Homo sapiens: one gene and its partner. The protein of the gene in region 1 purifies or fractionates together with the protein of each later gene. This does not show direct contact. Each region holds a gene or a part of one and is shown in the gene's direction. Other genes may lie near its edges. The genes, in order: MYO1G and RALA.

Evidence for each region.
Region 2: the proteins of MYO1G (region 1) and RALA fractionate together in Homo sapiens (co-fractionation; one large-scale study listed by BioGRID). This does not show direct contact.

Annotation. Positions count from the first base shown.
Region 1 is NC_000007.14:44,965,356-44,969,102, reverse strand, and holds part of MYO1G (unconventional myosin-Ig), read left to right. Parts: intron 1-1,144; coding exon 1,145-1,219; intron 1,220-1,365; coding exon 1,366-1,498; intron 1,499-2,264; coding exon 2,265-2,431; intron 2,432-2,822; coding exon 2,823-3,030; intron 3,031-3,242; coding exon 3,243-3,466; intron 3,467-3,747. UniProt on the Homo sapiens protein: Unconventional myosin required during immune response for detection of rare antigen-presenting cells by regulating T-cell migration. Unconventional myosins are actin-based motor molecules with ATPase activity and serve in intracellular movements.
Region 2 is NC_000007.14:39,699,885-39,703,704, forward strand, and holds part of RALA (ras-related protein Ral-A precursor), read left to right. Parts: intron 1-3,820. UniProt on the Homo sapiens protein: Multifunctional GTPase involved in a variety of cellular processes including gene expression, cell migration, cell proliferation, oncogenic transformation and membrane trafficking.

The DNA of each region.
Region 1 (3,747 bases):
GGGGGTGGGGAGGGAGTGGAAGGTGCAGGGGGGCCAAGATTCTGCATTTCTAACAAGCTCCCAGGTGAGGCCTCGCTACCATACTTGGACCACGCTCCCAGTGCCAAAGCCCAGGTGTCTTCAGGGGTTGTCATGATGGCTATTAACTTATGTGTTGCTTGCCGCATCCCAAAACGATTTAAGGTGACTCACATCAAGGTATAAGTGTTTCATGAGAACTTCTCAAGGAGAGGGAATAGAATAGATGATGACAACAAAGCAGCCCAATATCATCTACCTTTATCTGTTCGCAAAATCTACACCCATGAGGTCGCTCATGCCTGTAACCCCAGCACTTTGGGAGGCCAAAGTGGGTGGATCACCTGAGGCCAAGAGTTCGAGACCAGCCTGGCCAACATGGCAAAACCTCATCTGTACTAAAAATATAAAAATTATCCGGGCACGATGACGCGTGCCTGTAATGCCAGTTGCTCGGGAGGCTGAGGCACAAGAACTGCTTGAACCTGGGAGGTAGAGGTTGTGGCGAACTGAGATCGCACCACTGCACTCCAGCCTGGGCAAGAGAGTGAGACTATTTCTCAAAAAAAAAAAAAAAAAATCCATTCCCTGAGCCTTCATAGGTGCTGCAGTTGGAGCCAAGATTTGGCACTGACCTTTCTAGCAGTCCAAGAACTAGACAGTGATTCTGAGGCTCTCAGTGCCCACAGATCAAAATAGGCCCAGGACTCAGGAGTTCCTAGTCATAGTTGTAGTCGCTGATGTTTATCAAAATTCAGTAGGCACTGTTCTGAGCAACTGATGTACACTGAAGCACAGAGAGGTTGAGTGGCTTAGGCAAAGTCACACAGCATGCATGTGGTAGAAGCAGGACTCGGTGCTAGGACATTTGGCTTCAGAGCTGGGGGCTTAACCACTCGATTCATCTTCCAGGAGAGAAATGTCTCCTGAGGGAGGGAGTCTTACATGACGAAAGAGAAAGCAGGTGTGAGGGGGAAGGAGGAGAGGAGCCAAGGCAGAGGGAGGAAGAGAGACTGACCTATGGGAACAGAGGCAGATGGGAAGAGAGTGGGGGCTGCTGGGGTCATTAGCACTCTGGCCTGGCAGCCCCCGCCCCTGCTCCCTCACCAGCCCTGGCTTCTGGTAGGTACTCCGTGGAAGGCTTCATCGACAAGAACAGAGATTTCCTCTTCCAGGACTTCAAGCGGCTGCTGTACAACAGGTGAGCACGGCTTGCTGGGCACCATAGGGAGGGCCAGGGCCCTGGGGCCCCAGAGACTCTGGGGTCAGGCATTGACTAGCGTCAGGACGTGGGTGGGTGGGGCTGCTCTCCCAGAGGATGGCTGGGAATTCGGCCTGTGTCTGCAGCACGGACCCCACTCTACGGGCCATGTGGCCGGACGGGCAGCAGGACATCACAGAGGTGACCAAGCGCCCCCTGACGGCTGGCACACTCTTCAAGAACTCCATGGTGGCCCTGGTGGAGAACCTTGCCTCCAAGGTATGTTCCACCCCTCTCCCACTCTGGCTGTTCCGGATCCTTCTCTCTGTGCCCTCGGTGCCAAGTAGGGTCCCAACCACCTCTGTACATCATAGTGGTGGGGAGAGGGTTCTTGTCCTGTCTGTATGAGCCACATCTGCTCCAGCAGTGGACCCCACCCACTGCACAGGTGAGATGTGGGGCCTCAGGGGCTGGGCTGAGGCTTGATCAATCATGGGGAACCCAGGCTTCTCCTCGCCCCATTGTCTCTTGAACAGGGAGGGGTTTGGGGAGACCCTGCTGAGAGGCTGGCTTGGCCCAGCCCAGCTCTTGGCAAAAACCCAGGATTCTTCTGGCAGGTGGGGCCAGAGAGACAGGAAACTGGCACAAGCTTTCTTGGGGAGCTTTGGGTCAAAAGTCAGAAGAGGAACAGGTGAAGGGTCAGGGAGAGGACATGTTAGGGTGAGCTTAACTACAGAACATCCAGAGATGTCAGCCCCTTTTGGAAGGAGAGAAGGAAGGCAGATGGGGCGAGGCCTGCTCCTGCCCCTGCCACGCCCACCTCCCCACCCCCCGACCAGGGGCTGGAACCTGGCTCTGAACCTGGCCTTGCTGGCCTCTGCCCAGCACTTAGGGCTTCCAGGGCCCTTGTTCTGCTGATTTCCCTTCTTTGTTCCCAACTCTTCTCCTGGCCTGGGACCTTGAGGGGTTAGGAAGCCCCTGGTGTGGGGCAGGGTGCACAGTGCTGCTGGCGCAGACCCTCTCCAAGTCCCCTCTGTCCCTGCAGGAGCCCTTCTACGTCCGCTGCATCAAGCCCAATGAGGACAAGGTAGCTGGGAAGCTGGATGAGAACCACTGTCGCCACCAGGTCGCATACCTGGGGCTGCTGGAGAATGTGAGGGTCCGCAGGGCTGGCTTCGCTTCCCGCCAGCCCTACTCTCGATTCCTGCTCAGGTACTGGCACCTGACACCCATCACTCCATGGGCCATAGTCCCTGTGTGGAGTCCAAGGGGTAGGAGCAGAGGGTCCCCAAACAGCACGTCGCAAACATCGATACAAGCAGGAACCAGCACGCTGCTGGCCTCAAGACACCAAAATATCTGGGAAGACATGTGTGTGAGCACATGCATGTGGGGACATACAGGTGGGAACATGGGTATGAGGGCTGTGTGAGGACATGTATGTGAGGACATGTGTATGGGAAGACATATGTGCACAGGTGTCATAAGTGCTCCAGGAACACACTCTGTATCCCTGCCATCTCCCCAGGTGTGGGGTGGGCAGGGTGGGCTCCATCATCTCTCCCCCAGGCCTGGGCCACACTGCCCTGTCCTGTGGTGACAGGTACAAGATGACCTGTGAATACACATGGCCCAACCACCTGCTGGGCTCCGACAAGGCAGCCGTGAGCGCTCTCCTGGAGCAGCACGGGCTGCAGGGGGACGTGGCCTTTGGCCACAGCAAGCTGTTCATCCGCTCACCCCGGACACTGGTCACACTGGAGCAGAGCCGAGCCCGCCTCATCCCCATCATTGTGCTGCTATTGCAGAAGGTGAGGTGGGCGGGGCAGGAAGACATCCACTATGGAGGTGGGGAAAGCTTGTGTCCCAGGGGCCACAAACACACTTGTAAGTTTCACAGGAGTCTCTGCTTGATGGAGACAGGCCAGGGAGTGCTCAATAAATGCTCAGGGCCAGGTTTGGGTCTAAGGGTTAGGGCCTGATTGAATTTGACTGCGTATCCCATCCCACCTGGCCCACCCAGGCATGGCGGGGCACCTTGGCGAGGTGGCGCTGCCGGAGGCTGAGGGCTATCTACACCATCATGCGCTGGTTCCGGAGACACAAGGTGCGGGCTCACCTGGCTGAGCTGCAGCGGCGATTCCAGGCTGCAAGGCAGCCGCCACTCTACGGGCGTGACCTTGTGTGGCCGCTGCCCCCTGCTGTGCTGCAGCCCTTCCAGGACACCTGCCACGCACTCTTCTGCAGGTACTACTCTCAGCCCACCACACATTCCATTCAGCTGGCATCCACTGAATACCTTAACCCATCATCCCGGGCCTGCAGTGCCTGGATGGGAGATACACCAGCCCCCTTGATAGGTGGGAAGGTGGATGCTATGCCACATTAGCTGACTGCTCATGTCCCACAGTTGGTGCAGAGCCCTGACCATCTTGGGTACTGTGGTGGGCATTCAAGGTCCAGGGCTGCAGCCTGCAGGGGGAGGCCCATTAGGGCTGGGAAGTAAGGGGATTCTGCATCTGAGCGGG
Region 2 (3,820 bases), 5.3 Mb from region 1:
AGATTTTTTTTTCACAGATGCAGTCTGCCTCCATGTCGGTGGGCTCTGCATCCACAACCAAATGCAGACAGAGAATACAGCAGGATGTGAAACCTGCATATGCGGAGGGCTGGCTTTTTGCATCCATGTGTTCTGCAGGGCCAGCTGCGGGACTTGAGTAGGTAGAGATTTTGGGATCCACGGGCATTCTGGAACCAATCCCCCATAGATACTGAGGTACGACTATGTTACTTTTTCAAAAAATAAAAAATAAAATAAAGGTATAAGGCCGTTTTAGTTACTATGGCTGTATAACAAAGTACACCCCAGAACCTTTATGGGTAAAACAGTCATTTATTCTGCTTATACATTCTGTGGCCAAGAATTTGAACAGGGCACAGTGGAAATGGCTTGGCTCTGCTCTACAGTGTCTGCTGCCTCAGCTGAAAGCTTCAAGTCTAGGCACTGGAAATACCTAAACTTAGGTTCTGAAGGCTTGTTCGCACATGTCTGGCTCAGCCAGATGATGCTGGCCATTATCCAAGGATGCCTCAGTTCCTCTCCAGGTGGGCTCCTCCATGTGGCCTTTTCCATGTGTGCTAGTTTAGGCTTCCTCACAGCACAGTGGGCAGAGTCTCCAAGGGCAAGTGTCACAAGAGAAAAAGAACCAGGCAGAAACCATACGGCCTTTTATGACATAGTCTCTGAAGTTATGCAGCATTATTTCTACCTCATTCTACAGGTTGGAGATAGTCACAAAGTCTCACCTAGGTTGAGAAGGAAGGGGAATAGACTTCAGCTCTTGATGAAAAGTGGCAGGATTCTGGAAAAGCACATAGGAAACATTGCTGTGGCCAGTTTCAGTTAATACAGTCTGCAGTCGGTGGTCACCTGTCCAAAACAGAATTACATTAAACGAGGCTGCTTGTAAAGTGAGGTGCAAATCCATACTGAAGACTATAATTTCATGTACTGCTACATCCTGCGGAGTGATTACCAGATAAAGTACCTCAGTGGCTACATAAAAGTCATTTGCAGCAACTATTCAATTTCCAGAATTAGGTTATACTTGTGTTTGTGGTTGTTTTCCTGAGGAAATAATCTAATAATCAGAAAAGCTAATATTTATTTGTGTTTATAAGAGCCAGGCACTGTGGTAAGTACCAACCATTTAATCCTTAATTGTGTGAGGCGTAGATACTCTTCTGATGCTCACTTTTTAGACAAGGAAGCTGCGGTGTGGGGAGATTACGTAACTGGCTCAAGGTCACGGGGTTCGTGGTGGCATCTGCAGCTTCTGGGTCTGGCCAACTCTGGCGCTCACATGCTCACATTCTTTCTTCAATATTTTACTCAAAACAATGGTTGGGGCCAGGTGCCACCACACCTATAATCCCTGCACTCTGGTAGGCCGAGGCAGGCAGATTACTTGAGCCCAGGAGTTTGAGACCAGCCCGGGCAACATGGCAAAAGCCTATCTCTACAAAAAATACAAAAACTAGCCAGGTGTGGTGGCGAATGTCTGTAGTCACAGTTACTTGGGAGGCTGAGACAGGAGGATTGCTTGAGCCTGGGAGGTGGAGGCTGCAGTGAGCCGAGATCATAACCACTACCCTCCAGCCTGGGTAATGGGAGTGAGACCCTATCTCAAAAACAAAACAAAACAATGGTTGGAATAGCTAGTGTATCTCCCATTTCTTATGTCATCCACTACTAGAAGCCTGATCACAAATTTTCAGGAATAGCAAGTGTTATTTCCTTTTATTAAATTGTGAAGTGTCATGCTTTGTCACAGAACAAATGCTAGCTCTCCATAAGATCATTGGCTCATGCGTTATCCTCATCTGGAGTCCAAATAGACCATTAGGTGGAAGTTTCAAAGATGCAGATTTTAAATCTAGTCATGAAAAAGTGTCATAGCCACCAGAGCTGGGGCATGGCATGTCTCAGGAAGCCATGCTTGTCACAGAGGAATCACTCCGAGGCTAAAGGAACATCTGGGCAATCCTACTTGTGTACTCATTGGATTCATTCAGTGACCTTGTTATTATCCTTCTAGCTAAATGCTCTGGGTCTTAATTCACGACTCCAAGGTTGCTCTTGATTTTAAGGAACATTTTGGCAGAATAGAGAGAAGTTGAGCAAATATTAACAGATGTCCAAAGGGGCAGTGTGATTTATTATGTCAAGAGAATCAGTTTTATGTCGAGGGAAGAATTTTGGTAGAAATACACTGTATTTTTTGGAAAATATCATATTTGGGTTTTTTCATTGTATAAGTAATACATGGATACATGCTTATATAAAGAAAAATTCATAATATAGAAACATAAGGAGGAAAAATGAGTCATTTTTCTCCCATAGTTCACTCCTTTCCCCTCCCTTTCAGTAACCAGTGCTAACACGGGTGTGTCTTTCCAGACGTTAAAAGCAGTCATACATATCTCTAAGGGAAAGTTTGCATTTGCTTGTTTTTTCTTCCTGTATTAATAGGATTTGTGTATATATATACACACACGTAATATATTTTGTATCTGTATATATAGAGCATATTTCTGTGGTGCGCTTTTTAAATTTTATGACAAATCCTACAGCTCTTCCATGTCACTGCATATAGATGTATCCACATTCTTTTTAAAACCACAAAGTATTCCATGGTTAGACTTTTCCATAATTCAGCCATTTTCCTATTAATGACATTTATTTGTTACAGCAGTGTTCACAATAGCCAAGATACAGAACCAACCCAAGTGCCAACAACAGATGAATGGATAAAGAAAATGTGATAGATATACACTATAGAGTACTATTCAATCATTGAAAAGGATGAAATCCTGTCATTCATGGCAATATGGATAGAACTGGAGACAATTAAGTGAAATAAGCCAGGAACAGGCAGTTAAACACTGCATGTTCTCATTCATATGTAAAAGCTTAGAAAAAGTTGATCTCATAGAAGTAAAAAATAGAACAGAGAATACTAGAGGCTGGAATGGGAGGGATAGGTAGAGATTTGTTAAATTATACAGAATTACAGCTAGATATGAGGAATGAGCTCTGGTGTACTATACTATTGTAGATGACTATACTTAACAATAATGTATAGTTTCAAATACCTGAAAGGAGGATATTGAATGTTCCCAACACAAATAATAAATGATTGAGATGATGGATGTGCTAATTACCCTGGTCTTAGTCACTGTACGTTATATGTTTCAAAACATCACTGTGTACTCTGTGAATATGTGTCAATTAAACAGACAAAATTCAATTGAAAATAAAATCAGAAATTAAACCTTCATCTAGTTTCCTTTTCATAGTGATTTATCTGCATTAGAAAGCAATACTGGGAGTATTCCAATAATTACATTTAGTCAGAATCGAGACCTCCTGTCCTAGCTAGTTAGCCAGAGACTTGAAACAGAGGTCTTCTGAAATTCCTAGTCTCTGGGGAAATAGAATCACAACCACTAGGGGCAAAAACCCATGGCTTTTATGTCATCATTGTGTTCCGTTCTGTTGCATACTTTGTGTGTGGGTGTGTGTTTTATACTTTTTTCCCTTTAACCGTTTATGCTCCTTCATGTTGGTCCTATGTCCGTTTGACTCAGCCCATTCATCTTTGATAGTTTCGTTGCTTTCTGACTTAAATTTTATGCTTCTTGCTGCAGATCAGGAATCAGCCATTCATCTAAGGAACTCAGGTTCTGTTTAGGAGGAATGATATTTAGCAGCCACAGCATAGTTACATAATTTGCTTGTTGCTATTGTGTTGTCATTTTTCAGTGAATAGTTCTAGGAAATAGGTATTATTAAAAGAAAAAAATGTGATCATGTTGTT